2 separate regions of the Homo sapiens genome follow, and region 1 is linked to region 2. Evidence: fine-mapped expression QTL. A gene starts in region 2. The other region holds a variant in brackets. All regions are shown on one strand. Distances are from middle to middle. Region 1 holds the start of ING4 (inhibitor of growth family member 4). Region 2 holds the start of ZNF384 (zinc finger protein 384).

Region 1 (9,566 bases), 23 kb after region 2:
TGGCCAACACGGTGAAACCTTGTCTCTACTAAAAATACAAAAAAAATTAGCCAGGCCTGGTGGCATGTGCCTGTAGTCCCAGCTACTTGCAGGCTGAGGCAGGAGAATCGCTTGAACCCGGGAAGCGGAGGTTGCAATGAGCCGAGATTGTGCCGCTGCACTCCAACCTGAGCGACAGAGTGAGAGACTTCATCTGGGAAAAAAAAAAAAAAAGAGTTTTGACCCTGTGGGCCCCCTGTGAAGGTCTTAGTGTTCCCTAAAGATCCCCATGCCTCATTTTAAGAACCACTGGACTGGTGAGACGGGCATAAGCTGTCTTGGGATCCTGGTATGTGCTACATGAGGTATGCTTCCACCCTTAGCCTGTAGCTTCTCAAGTTTCATTTGAAACAATTTCTACTTTCTTCAGATAGAGGGAGAAGCTGGGAGGCCTGACACCTACCTTTTTGCTTTCCATCGAGGTCAAGGGGGCAGGAGGAAAGAGTACAATGTATTCATTCTGGTTTCTCCCAATTTTCTCAGTCCCACAGACGGCAACACAACAAAGATAAACCCTTCAAGTGCCACAACTGTCATCGGGCGTACACGGATGCAGCCTCACTAGAGGTGCACCTGTCTACGCACACAGTGAAGCATGCCAAGGTGTACACCTGCACTATCTGCAGTCGGGCATACACATCAGTGAGTGCTCCGTTTCTTCTCTCCTTCCTCATAGTCCTCTAAGAGTACAGTCCACTTCACCCCATTTTCTGGGTAGAGATCTGTTGCAGTGAATACCCTGCCTCCCTAGCTCCAACTTAGCAGAACAGGTAAATATTCAGAAATTAATTAGACCCATTCTGAGGAATTTAGGGGATGCCTGATCTCCTAATCCTATAGAGACGCATAAGCTGTAATTCTTCATTTTACTTAAACATAAGGCAAAATAAAGCCACTTGAAATTTTGAGGGGAGCTGGATTTCAGTTAGGCATTTTCTTCTTCTTTTTTTTTTTTTTTTCTTTTTGAGACACAGTCTCGCCCTGTCACCCAGGCTGGAGTGCAGTGGTGTGATCTCGGCTCGGCTCACTGTAACCTCCACCTCCTGGGTTCAAGCGATTCTCCTGCCTCAGCCTCCCAAGTAGGTGGGATTACAGGTGCATGTTGCCATGCCCAGCAACTTTTTGTATTTTTAGTAGACATGGGGTTTCACCATGTTGCCCAGGCTGGTCTCAAACTCCTGACCTCAAGTGATCCACCTACCTCAGCCTCCCAAAGTACTGGGATTACAGGTGTGAGCCACCGCACCTGGCCCAGTTAGATATTTTCCATGAGACTCCAGAAAAGGTTGTAAAGTTGTTTCATTCAGGGGTCTTTGAAAAAAATAGCAGCTCATTCCTTTGCCAGTTGAATGTTGAGTGACTTCTAAAGGTTCCTCTCTTTTTTTTCTCAGTAGTGAGCCACTGAAAGTGCTACTTGAGTTTTGCTCAGTCTTGGCTCCAGAAAACCAGTATAAAGCTTACTCTGCTTACAGCAGAATCAGAGCCTGGGGTGCTAGTTACAAGTAATCTCTTTTCCTTCCTCTTTATCCCTCAACTTCTTTTTACCATCTCCCTCAGGAAACATACCTTATGAAACATATGCGCAAACACAACCCGCCTGATCTTCAGCAACAGGTGCAGGCAGCAGCAGCAGCGGCAGCAGTGGCCCAGGCCCAGGCTCAAGCTCAAGCCCAGGCTCAGGCTCAGGCTCAAGCCCAGGCCCAGGCCCAGGCCTCCCAGGCATCACAGCAGCAGCAGCAGCAGCAGCAGCAGCAGCAGCAGCAGCAGCAACAGCCACCACCACACTTCCAGTCTCCTGGGGCAGCCCCCCAGGGTGGGGGTGGTGGGGACAGCAATCCCAACCCTCCACCCCAGTGTTCCTTTGACCTGACCCCGTATAAGACGGCGGAGCATCATAAGGACATCTGCCTCACTGTCACCACCAGCACCATCCAGGTGGAGCACCTGGCCAGCTCTTAGAGATCCGTGCTGCCACCCACTGGGAAGAGGAAGAAGTAGTCCTGGTGTCTTCTTTCTCCAACTCTTGGTGGGAAAAGTCCTTTTCTTCCTTGACAGGCCTTGGCTCCATCTCCTTGGGCCTCTGTCACGGCTTTCCTTCACAGGATACCATCCTTTTTCTGAACTCTTCTTCAAAAGGAACATCAGCCCTCCTGATTGCAAAGGAATACTGAGCTGATGGTGTCATCCAGCAGCCTCCCCTCCCAAGCAAAGCTTCTAAAACTGGGGGTCGGTGCTCAAGGGAAGGATTTGCTATGACCTCATAGAACCTTGTCCAGTGTGGCCACTTACCCTATCCTTACCCTCCTTATCCTCAAAGTTTGGGCTGATGTAAGACTAGAGGCTGGCCCTCCCAGATAACAGAGAAAAGGGAGCCCCAAATGCAACCAGCCTCTTGTTCTATTCTTGCCTGCAAAAGAACAGAGGTTTCTCAAATGCCTCAGTCCCTGAGAGCCATTTCTTCCCCTACATCGTCTCACTTTGCTTCCTATTGACTGCTGGTAGAAGGAGATTTGGGGTAGGGGCTAGACCTCCTTTTATTTGAAGGGGGCAAGGGCTGAGATGTGGTCCCCAAGGGGCCAGAAATTCCCAAGTTGGTCACAGGTGGCTTAGAAGTGTGTGTTATGGTTTTACGGATTTCCTTGAAGCCTCTCTCCTTCTCTGCCTACAAAGACCCTATACTCTCAGTCTCCCCAACCCACCCCCAAGGAGCTGTGGGAGGCTTTGTGTTATCTGTGAAACTCCAAAACAGGGGTGTTGCGGAGAAGGGAGAGTTCAAGGCAAACGCAAGGACTGGACTTAGCTCCCTAGGTGCCACAGTCAGATGCCGGACACGGATTTATATATAAATATATATATATAAATATATTATACTCACTCATCACGGCCATCTTTGTTGTAACCATTTCTGTGTTTATAAATGCATTATCTCTGAGAATTTTCATATTTGATGTTTTGTTTATTTTTGTCCTTTTTTTCCCTCTCTCCACCCCTGTCCTCTAGCCACAGCATTTTTCTTTTTGTCTTTTTTTTTTTTTTTTAAATCATGGCAGATTTCAGAGGAAAGGAAATTAAAAAAAAAATCAGGAAACCAGTTGTTATAAAGTAATTTAAAAATGAAGAAAAAAAGAAAAAAACTTATGTACAAACCAAGGGGTGTTTTTAGAACATTGTATAGAAATAAATTCATGTAAAAGGATCAGAGGCAGTGGAGCTACTGATGTGAGCGAGCATGCGGAAAAGGTATTTGGGGAGATGTCCAAGAACAGTACTGAGGATTTATACCAGAGTGTGTGTGTGATGAACAAGTGCTTGTGTGATGATGCCCCATTTGTGCAATTCTCCAGTCATGGAAGGGTACAGTTTCATGATGTCTCCAGTGAAATCCTGGTTTATGAGGACTTCTACATACACATTCTGTCATGGGGATTGCATTGCCTAAATATGTGAGAGCAAGGCTTTGGTTATGTGTTAACAAAACAGCTAAGCTCCCTATGGAAGAAAAATGGAAGCCTCTTGAAAGGACCTACACTCCTGCCTGAGTCTGTGGAAGAGGGGCTTGCAGTTGGCAATGTGTATACATATGTGTATTTGTTACCTTGTGGAAATCATAACCGGTTAAGGGGTGCAAGATTGATTTATGCAGGAGAGCTGTAGTACTATGGAGTAGAATGTGGTCATGAAACCTGGACTTCAGCCCTTTGCCTACCATCAACCAGTGTTGGCCAGGGTGCTTCTTCAACTGTTAGTGAAGGGATTGGACTAGATAACTCTGAAGATACCTTTTTTGAGAATTAAGTAACTTGCTTTAAGGCTGGGTGCGGTGGCTCACGCCTGTAATCCCAGCATTTTGGGAGGGCGAGGCAGGCAGACTACTTGACGTCAGGAGTTCAAGACCAGCCTGGCCAACATGGTGAAACCCCATCTCTACTAAAAATACAAAAATTGATGGCCGTGCACGGTGGCTCACGCCTGTAATCCCAGCACTTTGGGAGGCCGAGACAGGTGAATCATGAGGTTAGGAGCTCGAGACCAGCCTGGCCAGTATGGTGAAACCCCGTCTCTACTGAAAATACAAAAAATAAGCTAGGCATAGTGGTGGGCGCCTGCAATCCCAGCTACTCAGGAGGCTGAGGCAGGAGAATCTTTTGAACCTAGGAGGCAGAGGTTGCAGTGAGCCAAGATCGTGCCATGGCACTCCAGCCTGGGCGACAGAGTGAGACTCTCTCTCAAAAAAGTAAAATAAAAATACAAAAATTAGCCAGGTGTGGTGGCACGCGCCTGTAGTCCCAGCTGCAGGCTGAGGCAGAAGAATGACTTGAACCTGGGAGGCGGAGGTTGCAGTGAGCCGGGATTGCACCACTGCACTCCAGCCTGGGCCACAGAGCGAGATTCTGTCTGGAAAAAAAAAAAAAAA[CAAAAAAAAA/A]AAAACCTTGCTTTAAGCACCGAAAAAGTTGTGAAAGTTGTGACCAAGCTCCCACATCCTGAGAACTCTGGGACTGCTGGCCAATAGTACTTGTTATGTAGTTGGGCTGGGATAAATAAAGCCCACTTAATTTAGTGCTAGATATCCTGTGTGGGCACCTAAGATGGTGTCTCAATATGTTGTGTAATACCAATGAATGTATCACATATGACCAAATATGCCAATGTTTCTTAGCTCCCTGCATATTTACTGCTTTTTCCTCCCACTCTCACCAACTCTTGAAAAGGCCCTAATGGCCCTAACTTCATCACCAGTATTAGAACTAGAATCTACTCTTTTTATGGATACACTCACACTCACTTATTCCAACAACCCTATGAGGGAGGTAGTAGTCTCATTGTATAGTAAAACAGGCACAGAGATCAAGTTACCGAAAAGCATGACTTTTGTAATTAGAGCAGTTTCCCGGATTCTATTGCTGTATCTTACTACCTGCACACTAGTAAACCTGGGGTTTACAGGCTACAGATCCTTTCAGCTCTGATACCCCCACCACTCTACAGCCCCTGAACCCCCTCCTCCAGCCTGCTCTTACTGTCCAGATAATGTTTCAAATACATCCCTGCATCCATCTCGAAGCAAAACAAAGCAACTTCCAATCCGCCCCGGGTTGGAAGTTCCTCTTCTCCACATATTTGGTAGAAATTATATAGCTGAAAGTCTGTCTCTTTAAAAACTTGCCGTAAGACATTGGTAATTCTTATGAAGGATGTGTGAGGGTACGAAAAGTGTGAGGGGTGGCAGCTATCTCTAAAATACTATCTTACTAACACCACTATTAGGTTATGGCCTTTGTGTTGGCAGTGTGTTGACAGCCTAGTGTGTTGGCAGCCTCTCATACCCTTGACTGCTTCCCATTCTGATGAAAACCATAGAAATCACTCTACCATAGCTGACTAGAGTGATGGCTAGCAACTAACTAGCCAACTAGCCCAGTAGTGATACTGCTGCATCCCTCAATCCCTTCAGAATTATGATGCTAACATCACATATAAACAAAAGGAAAACAAAAACACGAGATTTCCCCCTTAGAGAGTAGCAAGAGGGGCCAGGCACAGTGGTTCGCACCTGTAATCCCAGCACTTTGAGAGGCTGAGGTGGGCAGATCACCTGAGGTCGGAAGTTCGAGACCAGCCTCACCGACATGGAGAAACCCCATCTCTACTAAAAATACAAAATTAGTCTGGCGTGATGGTGCATACCTGTAATCCCAGCTACACGGGAGGCTGAGACAGAAGAATCACTTGAACCCGGGAGGTGGAGGTTGCGGTGAGCCATGATCACGCCATTGCACTCCAGCCTGGGCAATAAGAGTGAAAATTCTGTCTCAAAAAAAAAAAAAAAAAAGCAAGAGGGCAAGGCAGGAAGTAATATTTTATATGTGAAAGTGTATTCTAGTGTAACGTACAGGAGCTCTGACAAAAGATGTGCAGAATTATAGCTTTATTATGAGTCATTCTTTGTATTTATAAGTAGAAAGGTGATCATCTTTCTCAAGTTAAAAAAATAATGCTGGGGGAGATGGTGTTTGTGTGAGTGAATAGAAATTCAGACGGTTTAAATGTCTCAAGGCCTGATACTCTTCCCCAACTTCCTTAAGAAACTAACTGGCTTGAAAAAAGTCATTCTGCAAAAGAGGGAAAAAAAGTTGGATCTTCCAGTTGCTGAGAAGGTATGTTTACGCAATATGAGCCTAAAGTGAACAGTTACCCCTGCACGGATTACCATACATTCCCGTTTTGGAGGGAAAAAAGTTTGCTAGAGAATGCAAAATGGCGACCTCCAGTGACGTCATACCTGTCTCGGTCGCGTCCTGGGGTGTCTGTAAGGGCGGAAGCGGGCTACAGCCGCCTCACTGTGGGCGGTCGTGGCTACCATGCAAAAGGAAAAGTTTCAGTGTCGGGCGGATGTGTACCGGCGGTAATATAGTAAGGGCGGAAGTTCTCCTTTAAGGGCGGAAGTTCTCCTTTTAAGGGCGGAAGTTCTCCTTTTAAGGGCGGAAAGGCTTTAGCCGCAAAATGGCTTCGGCCCCTGTCGCGTTACAGTCACTTCCGGGGCGGATCGGAAGTTGCTTTGTTTTGCTTCGAGATGGCTGCGGGGATGTATTTGGAACATTATCTGGACAGTAAGAGCAGGCTGGAGGTGGGGGTCGGGGCTGCAGAGTGGTGCGGGGATCAGGGATGAGAGGATCTGTAGCCCTTAAGTTCCAGTGACGAGAAGGTCACAATTATGAAGCGGTTCTGTGGCAGGAAATATTGGAGGGTGCGGAGAAAGAGGGGGCGGGGCAGCAGGATCGAGGCCCCGCTGATGGGTGTAGACGAGGGAGGGGTGCGGTGTGGGGGTTAGAGACGTGTCTTGAAGGGCTAGTGTGCATGGCCAGGAAGATAGTTGCTGCCCCCATTCTCCAGGGTCTCCAGCCTCGGTAGATTTTTTTCCCCATAGTCGTTCAGAATCGTTATCACACACTGCCATTTGGAGAAGCGGTAAAGACCTCTCCTCCACTCCATTCTTCCTCAAAAGTGGCTTCTCATGGGGTTGAGAGTGGTGGTGATGAGTGACCACTGTCAGATGATGAACTAGAACGCTTCTCTTCATGGAGTAAAGATCTAATTCCCATCAAATGAAAATCTGGTGTTTATGCGATTTATGTAAACCACCCCTGCAGAAAGCCTATTGCTCTGTGCGCTTACATTTGTTTTAGGGCCCGGAGTCATTTATTCAACAAATATTTATTGAGGTCCTGCTATGGGTCAGACATAATGGCAGGCACTAGGGATAGAAAAATGAGTAAGACAAGGCTCCTGCCCTCAAGAAGCTCACGATCTAGTAGGAAACAGATTCTGCAAATAATTATAAAACACTGTGACAAGTGAGATAATGGAAATACATTAAAAAGGACACTTGGTAGGCAACCCTGGAGAAAAGGGGGGTAATTACCTGGGGATGTAGGAAAAGCTTTACAGCGGAGGTGATGTTTGAATAGGGTCTTGAAGGTTATTTGCCAGTGAGGAGAGAAAAAAGGAATTCCAGGTTGGGGAAAGCATCCGCAAAGGTACTGTGATGGGTTTGTGGCAAGGTCAAGGGTGTTTGATATTTATGACTCAGAGGTCAGCGTATTTGATATTTATGAATCTAAGGTAAGAAATTGAGAAAGGAGACTGGAGAAAGAGGCTGAGGCTAGATTGGACAAGGTCTTTTAAGCCAAACGAAGAAGTTTGCATTTTAAAGTAGAGTATGATTTTTATAGAGGAAAATGACTAATATATGGTAAATTGGAGCATGATATTGTTGATAACAGAGATCAATTAGTGATAACATTCCAGGACAGAGATAAGAACCTGATTTTAGGGAGTTACAGAAGTATTTAGGAGTTAAATATGAAAGGACTGACTGAATGACTGAGTGGTTGAGAGAGAAGGAAGAATCTAAGGTGGCTTCTTCCTGCTTAGAAAGTGAGGTAGACAGGCTGGGCACAGTAGCTCATGCCTGTAATCTCAGCACTTTGGGAGGCCAAGGCGGGCAGATCACTTGAGGTCAGGAGTTTGAGATCACCCTGTCCAACATGGTGAAGCCCAGTCTCTACTTTAAAAAAAAAAAAAAATTAGCTGGGCATGGTGGCATGTGACTGTAATCCCAGCTACTTGGGAGGCTGAGTCAGGAGAATCACTTGAACCCAGCAGGTGAAGATTGCAGTGAGCTAAGATCATACATACCACTGCACTCCAGCCTGGGTGACAGAGAAAGACTCCGTGTCCCTCTCAAAAAAAAAAAAAAAAAAAAAAACAAAGGCTGGTGGCCAGGCACGGTGGCTCATGCCTGTAATCCCAACACTTTGGGAGGCTGAGGCAGGCGGATCATGAGGTCAGGAGATCGAGACCAGCCTGGCTAACATGGTGAAACCCCGTCTCTACTAAAAATAAAAAAAATAGCCAGGTGTGGTGGTGTGCCCCTGTAGTCCCAGCTACTTAGGAGGCTAAGGCAGGAGAATCGCTTGAACCTGGGAGGTGGAGGTTGCAGTGGGCCGAGATCATGCCACTGCACTCCAGCCTGGGCAACAGAGTGAGACTCCGCCTCAAAAAAAAAACAAAAACAAAAAGGCTGGGAGCGGTGGCTCACGCCTATAATCCTAGCACATTGGGAGGCTGAGATGGGTGGATCGCCTTAGGTCAGGAGTTCCAAGACCAGCCTGGCTAACATAGTGAAACCCCGTCTCTACTAAAAATACAAAAATTAGCTGGGCGTGGTGGCAGACGCCTGTAATCCCAGCTACTTGGGAGGCTGAGGCACAAGAATTCCTTGAACCTGAGATTGCGCCATTGCACTCCAGCCTGGGCGACAAGAGCGACACTACACCTCAAAAGAAAAGAAAAGAAAGTTACTCAGCGGAGAAAAGATCATGCCAACTGCTGCAGAGATATTTTTTAGGATAGGCTTAATAACACCATTAGATTTGGTAAATCACCAGTGACTCAGTCTTGTGAACTGGTGGTAGCAGACCTGAAGTTGTAGGTTTAAACAGTAGAGGCATTTTATTTTTTTTTATTTATTTTATTTTAGTTTTTCTGTTTGTTTGTTTGTTTTTGAGACAGAGTCTCACTCTGTCACCCAGGCTGGAGCGCAATGGTGCGATCTTGGCCCACTGCAACCTCTGCCTCCCGGGTTCAAGTGATTCTCCTGCCTCAGCCTCTTGAGTAGCTAGGATTACAGTGCCCGCCACCATACCCAGCTAATTTTTGTATTTTTAGTAGAGATGAGGTTTCACTGTGTTGGCCAGGCTGGTCTCAAACTCCCAACCTCAGGTGATCCACCCACCTTGGCCTCCCAGAGTGCTGGGATTACAGGCATGAGCCACCGTACCAGGCCTTTTATTTTTTATATATATATTTAATTTTTATAGAGACAGGATCTGGCCATATTGCCCAGGCTGGTCTCAGACTCCTGAGATCAAGCGATCTACCTGCCTTGGCCTCCCAGAATGCTGGGATTACAGGCGTGAGCCACTGTGCCCAGCAAGTAGAGGCATTTTTAAAGTTTTAGGTGGAGT
Region 2 (9,319 bases):
GCACAGAAGGGGAAGGAGCTCAAGTGCCGGAGAGCACACTGGGCTCTCACCTTCAGCAAGGATCTCTCTTCAAAGGGACAGTGTGACCCGTGGCTCATCCATATGCAAAAGGCAAACATGAAGGCCCCTAATGAAGAGGGAATTAATTACTGCCTGATTAGACCACTGTTTCTCTAAATTTAAATAAATTAAAATACACCAGCAAGGTACTGGAAATCCTCACCTGTTCCCTCTTCCTAAATGTCCTCCTTTCCCCATGGAAAGTCAGAAGGCAGGAAAGACAGAGGAGGAAGGAGACTGTTCCAGACTCTGAACTGTACTAAAAAAATTCTCCCAAATGATACTGCACTGTCACGTTAGCCATGAAGAGTCGTAAGGCCCTGGGGAGCAAGCCCTAACTTTTCTCTCCTGTAGTTGAAACAGAGACTGTGGGGCTTTGAGAGGTCCTCAGAAAGCTGCAGCAGAGTCACTAGCCAAGAAAAAAACAATGGCCATGCTGTCCTTTTGGGAACTGGAAGGTTCTTCGAGGTCACACATCACAGCCACCACTGGAACCAGCGTCTCATCACCATCCTTTCTTTGCCTCCTGAGCTGTGCATCAAATGACTCAGCCAGGCTTCTCTTAGCATTTTTCTGGAATGCTTGCCACTGCGGCTTAGACCAAACCAGGGAATGGGGAAGCCCCCAGGAGGAGGGAGGGATCTCCCAGGCACAGCTTAGGGTGTGGAAGTGATTCAAGATGGAAACAGTATGCCAGCTGGAGAACCCCAGGCTAAAATTAACAGCCCTCCTCCCCCTACGCCCCACATTTATTGTTCTAAAGCTTTTCCCTAAGGAGTTCAAAGCACTTGAAACTTCTTTTTTTTTTTTTTGAGATGGAGTTTAGTTCTTGTTGCCCAGGCTGGAGTGCAATGGCGCAATCTTGGCTCACCACAACCTTCGCCTCCCAGGTTCAAGTGATTCTCCTGCCTCAACCTCCCAAGTAGCTGGGAAACTTCCTTCTTATAGCAAGGGCAGGAATAGGGCTGACGGAGACACGGAGACCCAGGAAGTGCCCAGTTAACATAAATAGGAAAAGAGCAGGAGGAGAACCAGAACGTATAGCTATTATTACTATTTCCTGTTCCCACCTTTCAATACCAGCCCCTGATGTCAAGGTTTCTTGAATCAGCAATCTCTAACCCACACAGCAATAGGTCTGGTCACATCTGAGCCCTTAAAATCCTTACTCTGCCAACTGTTGCTACTCAGTCAACAGAGACTGAGTGCTGAGCCCAAAAATGTGATAAAGGGAACAGACACTTTAAAAAAGATACAAACTACAATTACAATGAAATGCATCATCTATTTAAATATTTAAAGGCGTACTTTGTTACTTTCTTGCTTTGACCTTGGGGGAAAAAATCACTTAATCCTTTACAGGCTTATTTTCATTATCTGTAAAATGAGCATTATAATTATTTCTGTTAAAGTTATTTTTTGCTGGGCGTGGTGGCTCACGCCTGTAATCCCAGCACTTTGGGAGGCTGAGACAGGTGGATCAGTTGAGGTCAGGAGTTCGAGACCAGCCTGGCCAACATGGTGAAACCCCGACTCCACTAAAGATACAAAAAATTAGCCCGGTGTGGTGGCGGGCGACTGTCATCCCAGCTGCTAGGGAGGCTGAGGCAGGAGAATCGCTTGAACCCAGGAGGCAGAGGTTGCAGTGAGCCAAGATGGCGCCAATGCACTCCAGCCTGGGCAACAGGGTGACACTCTGTCTTTAAAAAAAAAAAAAAAAGGTTATTTTTCTCAGCAAGAGGCTCTTACCATTAGTAGGAGAGACCTCAGTTCTGCTTAGAGCTGAGCCCAGGGGGATTCTGGCCAGGTCGGGGTGCACGCTTGTAACAGCATTCACTTGTTCAAACAACATATTCAGCATTTACTATATGCTCAGCAAAGCAACGTATTTCCTTCCATGAGGAACTGACAATCTTGCTGGGGAATCACATGTATGAAATAGTTAAAATATCAATAAAAGGTACGTATTAAATACTATGGGAATTCAGAGGGACCATTACAGGTTGGAGCAATCAGGCAAGGCTTCCTAAAAGGGTTCATATTTAGGTGTTCATAATGAACTATAGTTCATTTATACAACAAGAGTTTACAGACCACTTAACTGCCAGGATATGAGGATACAGCAACGAACAATTCAGTCCTCGCTGTCCTGTAGCCAATATTTTAGTTGGGAGAGGTGGACAGCAAACAATAAATCAGGCAGTAATAAGTGCTATATTTAAGTAAAACAGGGTAAGGGGATAGAGATGTGGGTATGGGCAACAAGAAAAGACCAAAGTAAAGTAAGGGATGTGTCAGAGAGACAGATTTTGATGGCTGGGAGAGTTTCTAACTGGACCTAAGTAGGGACCTCCGAAAAACAAGGATACGTCCTAGTCCTTTCCCGCATATTCAAAGCATTGAGACATTCTTGGGGGTATCAGAAAAAATAATGGTAATTTCCTACATCAGCTTATTCAACATCCAGAGGGAAGAGAAACGGGGTCCCAGCATCTGAAGAACCCACACCTCCTCTCCTACCTTGATGGATAATTCATGAACCTGTCGCGTTTCCACCCCCCCACCTTCCCCAGATGTCCCTTCCGGAAGCTCAGGGCCGGAGTCCTCCGGTTTCAGCTTTTGCCCCTAGCGGAACCCGCCTTCACTTCCGCTATAGCGTCACATCCCCTCTTCCCAGTCGCTGGGCAGAAGCTATTTCCGCCCCGAGTTATCGTAACTTCTGCCCTGAATATCTCGCAGCGCTAGCGGCGCCGGAAGTGTTCCAGCCACTCCCGGAAGTGACTCGGCTTCTGCACGCCCCTCTTTCTCCATTAGCGCCCCCCCTACATTGCTATTTCCCTCCCTCCCCCCTTTTCGTTTCCGGCGCTCCCGCCTTCTCTCCGCAGAGCTCTTCTCTGAGCCTGTTGGGGGGAGGGAGGGGGGCGTGGAGGAACTGGGGTTCGCGGGAGCACGAGCTGCAGCACCACTTCCGGGTGAGTGCAAGGGGAGGGCAGCAAGGAGGGGGGGCCACCCACTACCTCGCGCCCCCGCCCTGCGGGTGTCTCGCGCGCGTTCCGTGCGTGTGAGTGTGTGGGTCTGTCTCGCTCCAGAAGTGCGTGCCCGCGCGCTGCGCCTTGCGCTTTTTCCCCTCCCTCGCCCCTTCCTGGTCCTCCCACCCTCCTCGGCTCCCTCCTTTCCCAGCAAACGCCGCCCCTCCCGCGCCCTGGCTCAGGCTCTGGCGCCGCCGCAGCCGTCGCCGCCCGGTGAGTCTCGCGCCGCTACAGCCGGCGCGCGCCAAGCTGCTTGCTCCTCCCCCCTCCCCTTTTCCTTGGGCAGGCGGGGAAGGGGGGGTCCACGATGTGACTGTGTGTGTGTCCGTCCCGGAACCGGAAGTGGTTGTGGAGGAGCGGGCGATGGGAAGGAATGGGGGGGTTTAGGGGGCGGGTGCCTGTCTGGTGGGTGGCAGAGTTCAGCTCCCTGGAGGGGAAGGAGGGACGTCCCAAGGAAGGGTCTTTGAGAAAGGGGTAGGGGACGACATCAGGAGAAGGCTCCCAGGAACTGTCTCAGGGGAGCGAAGGTTTTGAGGGGACAGCTGGGGTCTCCAGTAGATAGACCACGGTGCAGGCTGAGGGAGGTACTTCTTGGCACAAGGCCTCGGGTAGGCAGGGGGCGAAGTCCTCGAAGAAGTGGGGGGAAGGCTAGAGGAAGTGGCTGGGCCTGAACTGGCACTGTGCCTGCCACAAGGTCTTGTGCATCCCCCAGCCCTCAGCTTTGCCTTCTGAAGCCACTCCTCAGGGGCACAGACCCTCCTCCTCCTCCATCTCTAATGTTCTCTGACCCCTGGTTACCTGTGGCCTGGGAACGAACAAGGACCAGTCTCTGAGCCTAGGAGTGAAACCCAAACGCTGGTGATAGAATTCGTCTTAGTTTCTGGGAATTGGATTTATTTCTCTTGTATCCACGTAGAGGGTAGCACTAGACTGCTGTTATTATATCCACCCGTCTTTGGATTGCTGGCTGGGGGGTCTGCCTGCCTTCCAGACTGACTGCTGACAAATAATTCCTGAGGTTCTCCACAGTTCTCTGGTGGCTGCACCCTGCCTGGCCCCTGTAACCTAGACAATTTGTTTACAGAAAGTTCAGGAGCCCTGGAAAGGAGAAGGAATAAGACGGCAGGAGGAAGAGAGAGAGAGGGTAAGATGATTTTTGGGTTAATGGCTTTTCTGGTTTTGGGGGAGAAGGGGTCACAACCAAATGGGGCGTGTGTGTGTTTCACAATGTGATAGAATACTTAAAGTAATAGCAATTGTAATGCTGAGATTGTTGTGGAGAGAAATCAGTTTTTTTCTATTATCTCTTGAGGGTCAGGAAGTTTTTGTGTAAAAAGTTGGCGCTATCCCCCATCACTTTCCATTCCTACTAATGCTCATCAGGAATGAAATATGAAATGCTCAGGTGAAGCCACTGAATAGTGTTGCCTTGTGTCCAAAGGGGAAATCTTTATTCTGCTTTGGGACACAAAGACCCTAAATGCCAATATAGTCCTTATGGAATTGCTTTCCTGTGTCTGGAACAAGCAGAGCTGAGTTTAGAATGGAGTTCCTATCCCAAATAGTCCAGTGGAGTGTTAGAAGTGGGTCTGTGGAGTGATTAGAATCTGTGACACAGGGTTATTTGAATTTGGTATGGCAAGATGAAATTTTCAGGGGAAAAAAAAAACTGCTTCATGGTTAGTCTGGAGTGAAGTGGATAAAACTGTACGGAGTAGACTCCAGAAGTAGGTCTGGAAGAGTTTCGGGTAGCCTGAAAATGACAGTGAGTGGACCTAAAGAGTTTGAGTTCAGAACTTATGATCCCAGAGGTTGGTTTATAAAATGCCCTGTGGGTTTCTGAGCCAAGTTGTTGATTAAATATTGGGTACATATCTCTTCTTCTCCAGTCTTATTTATTTATTTTGGCCTCACATTCCCCAGATCCATCATTTATAGTGGAACAGACAGGGCAAGGAGAACCACCGTGCCGTCCCTCCCACAGGATGCAGGGTAAAGTGGTCCGGTGGTGCCCAGGCTAGAAGCTGTTGGCCCAGGTTGCCAGCTGTGTGGTGGTAGCAGTCCTGTTTAGTTTGTTTGTGTATGGTGTGATGATGTTTCCCAGTAACATTGGGGTGCATTTGTTCTGAGTTACTTGTACTTGGAAGAGTTTATGGATACTGGCGGGAAAGCGTCACATCCTACTGGGATGGCCCTTCTTGAATGTCTTTAGACCCTGAGAGAAAGAGATTTTGTTTCCTTTTGGAGAAACAAAAAAAACTTTCTCTGTGTTTCTTCATTTCAAGTCTTGAGCTAAGGTAACCTTTCTGCAGTTGTGTGTTTTGGAATGGTTTCTCAATAGCGTCTTAAGTTCTTTCTGTAGTTGAATTCAAGTTGATTGTTTTTTTCCATCTTTTTCTTGTTGATGCTACTTGTAGATGATTTCTAAACCGGAGGCTATAGATTTGTTACTTTTGGGTAGTTCCTTTGTAATTATGTAGTCCTTATGTAATTTTCACTAATTGTCGCTAATAGTCCTCATCTTGTGGAAGTGTTTCTGTAACTCTTCTTTTCAGGAGCACTTGGGGCATTTCATTCTTTCTCTTTTTTGTGCTGCCTTTATCTCATCACCATATGCCTTACAAACTTATTTATACAGGCCTCATCCTCTTCCATCCTCCATCCTGATAGAAACCTAGTAAAATGGTTAATTCATCCACTTAAATAGTTAAGAGTCATCCACTGATATAGGACCTAGAATTAGAATTCACAAGTCTTGGCCGGGCACGGTGGCTTACGCCTGTAATCTCAGCACTTTGGGAGGCTGAGGAGAGCGGATCACCTGAGGTCAGAAGTTCAAGACCAGCCTGGCCAACATAGCAAAATCCCGTCTCTACTAGAAATACAAAAATTATCCAGATGTGTTGGCAAGCGCCTGTAATCCCAGCTACTTGGGAGGCTGAGGCAGGAGAATTGCTTGAACCCAGGAGGTGGAGGTTGCAGTGAGCTGAGATCACGCCATTACACTTCAGCCTGGGCAACAAAATGAGACTCTGTCTCATAAAAAAAGAATTCAGAAGTCTTGATTCCCAAGGCCATTCTCTAGCTACTGAACTTGATGAGTGTATTTCATGGTTTTCTAAGGGTTGGTTGTGTTAAGGGAATGCTGTTTTCTTGGGGAAAGAAAATCATGCTTTATTTGAAAAAACAACAGTAAAAAAACAATTAGTGGGTTCTGGGAAAGAGATGGTGGTCTTCACCATATCTGCCAAAAACACCTGCTGGAGGCCATGTCATCTTTATCCCTGGATGGTTGGTAGCATTACGGAAGGATGTGGTCAGATAGACAAAGCTCTGGGCCAAGAGTTCAAGTCCTACCGTGTTTCACGACTATTATTAATACTTGATAGTGTCTCTCTTCTTTATCTCCTGAGGGCTTCTGAGATTTGAGATTGGAGAAGGAATATGTAGTTCCTTGTGTCTCTTAAGAGAAAATTACTCTCCAACTTAATTAGAGTAAACCTGCCTTCTTTTTTTTTTTTTTTTTTTTTTTTTGAGACTGAGTCTCGCTCTGTCGCCCAGGCTGGAGTGCAGTGGTCTGATCTCCTTTCACTGCAACCTCCACTCCACCTCCCAGGTTCAGGCAATTCCCTGTCTCAGCCTCCTGAGTAGTTGGGATTACAGGCGCATGCCACCATGCCCAGCTAATTTTTTGTATTTTAGTAGAGATGGGATTTCACCATGTTGCCCAGGCTGGTCTTGAACTCCTAAGCTCAGGCAGTCCACCTGCCTCGGCCTCCCAAAGTGCTAGGATTACAGGTGTGAGCCACCTCGCCCAGCAGTAAACCTCCCTTCCTATTAACAGAACAGTTGAGGCTTGGTGCAATAGTAAAGTTGATATGAGAACCCAGATTTTCAGCCTGCCAGCATTTTTCTTTCCACCAAATTATATCTTTCCTTCTCTTCTGTTTTTTCTTTCCTTTCTATTTCTTTTTCTTTTTTTCTTTTTGAGACAGGGTCTCACTCTTTTGGCCAGACTGGAGTGCAGTGGCGTGATAATGGCTGACTGCAGCCTCGACTTCCTGGGCTCAAGCAATCCTCCTGCCTCAGCCTCCCAAGTAACTGGGACTACAGGTGTGAGCCACCATGCCCGGCTACTTTTTTAATTTTTTGTAGATACAGGGTCTCCCTATTTTGCCCAGACTGTTCTTGAATTCCTGGGCTCAAGTGATTCTCTTACTTTGGCCTCCCAAAGTACTTTCTTTAAATATATAGGCATAATCATTAAAATTGGCACTCTCTGTGTAGACATGAGTTTTCTGTGTAACATCAGTGGGCTTCTTTGGGTGATAAGAATGTTGATATGTGCCTGATTGAATGTTGGGATGATTTGGAGAAATTTCCTCCACGAAAGATAGAGTAAGCGGTAAAACAGACAGTAAGCAGATATTTGAGTGATCTGGCCCCAGAACGCCCTGTTACACAACTCTAGGGGGCGCCATTTACATTGTATTCTAGCAATAGTTTTGATTCTTAGCTCTCCATTGATCTCATTTCAGGAGTACAAAGATGAAGTCAGCCTCATCAGTAGCACAGTGGCATAGCATTTCTCAGGTGTCATTTTGCTGGTAAAGGTTGCTTATAGTTGGATGAGCAGTTCTCTCTGTGGTCTCCCTTTTGGGCTGACCTATTTATCGGAAGCTGGTAACGCATATGTAGTGTCTTGTCCTTGGACCAGACACACCAGTTTATTGGATGCAATAAACTAGGCATCCAAGTAAGTGGAGGGGCTTTTTATTTATTTTCCTTTGTAAAGTCCGGCCTCTTTATTCAGGCTCTGTCATCCTAAAGTAAGTTATCTTGGTAGCTAAGTGAGGTTTCACAGAATAAGGAATATGACCTTGAACTGCATGTCATTTTGCTGTTATCAAAAACTTCAATTTTGAAAACATTTTTTGAGAACTAGCTGGAAAATAGTTCATTCCTGGAAATATTCTAAATTTTATTTCCTGGATCAAGCCATAACATCAGAAAGTGTGTACTACAGTTATATGGTTTTGGTTCCTTGTAGAACCCCTTTCCTTAACTTGCCCTTTGGTGCCTGGATTCACATTCCTGCTTTGCTATTTACTGTTGGACTCTGTGCCTCCAGTTTCCTCATTTCAAATGGGAATTACAGTACCTACCTCATTGTTGCAGGGACTAAATGATGTAGTAGTTGTAAAGTGCTTAGAACACTACCTTGAACACAATAAGTGCTTAATAAGTTTTAATGATAATGATAGTGGTGATATTGTCCACCAGTTTTTTTTTTTGAGACGGATTCTCACTCTGTTGCCCAGGCTCGAGTGCAGTGGTGCGATCTTGGCACACTGCAACCTCCACCTCCCAGGTTCAGGTGATTCTCCTTTCTCAGCCTCCTGAATAGCTGGGACTACAGGCGTGCGCCACCATGCCTGGCTAATATTTGTACTTTCAGTAGAGACAAGGTTTCACCATCTTGGCCAGACTGGTCTTGAACTTCTGACCTTGTGATCCACCTGCCTTGGCCTCCCAAAGTGCTGGGATTGCAGGCATGAGCCACCGTGCTCAGCCTCCTCCTTCCTACGTTTTCACATCCATAGTGCATTTACTTTACTTCCTTGATTCTTTTTTTTTTTTTTTTTTTTTGAGACAGGGTCTTGCTCTGTCACCCAGGCTGGACTGTGGTGGTGCAATCTCGACTTACTGCACTCAGGTGATTCTCCTGCCTCAGCCTCCCAAGTAGCTGGGACTACAGGTGTGTGCCACCACACCTTGCTAATTTTTGTATTTTTATTAGAGATGGGGTTTTGCCGTGTTGGCCAGGGTGATCTTGAACTCCTGAGCTCAAGTGACCCACCTACCTCGCCCTCCCAAAGTGTTAGGATTACAGGCATGAGCCACCACACCCAGCCAACTTCCTTGATTCTTTTGGGAAAATTATACATTGGCCCTTTCTTTCGTTTATTCTCCCTCCTAATTATTATTTTTAATCTTTTTTATTTTATTTTATTTTTTTTTTGAGACAGTCTTGCTCTGTTGCCCAGGCTGCAGTGCAGTGGTTAGATCTCGGCTCGCTGCAACCTCCACCTCCTGGGTTCAAGCAATTCTCCTGCCGCAGCCTCCTGAGTAGCTGGGATTACAGGCGTGTGCCACCATGCCTGGCTAATTTTTGTATTTTTAGTAGAGATGGGGTTTCACCATGTTGACCAGGCTGGTCTCAAAGTCCT

Evidence for each region.
Region 1: its variant is fine-mapped to the expression of ZNF384 in monocytes (BLUEPRINT, PIP 0.95).

What each region holds. Positions count from the first base shown.
Region 1 is chr12:6,660,146-6,669,711 of GRCh38, reverse strand. ING4 (inhibitor of growth family member 4) reads left to right here and starts at 6,593. Exons shown (of 8, transcript NM_016162.4): 1 at 6,593-6,647. The coding sequence starts at 6,611. It overlaps ZNF384 (zinc finger protein 384), which reads left to right. Exons shown (of 12, transcript NM_001385745.1): 11 at 523-681; 12 at 1,597-3,235. The coding sequence ends at 1,998. RefSeq lists an enhancer at 6,563-6,622. The variant CAAAAAAAAA/A (reference allele first, on the strand shown) is at 4,454.
Region 2 is chr12:6,683,081-6,692,399 of GRCh38, reverse strand. ZNF384 (zinc finger protein 384) reads left to right here and starts at 3,025. Exons shown (of 12, transcript NM_001385745.1): 1 at 3,025-3,302; 2 at 4,174-4,233. It also overlaps a transcript of PIANP not described here. RefSeq lists silencers at 2,907-2,986, 3,067-3,176 and an enhancer at 2,547-3,173.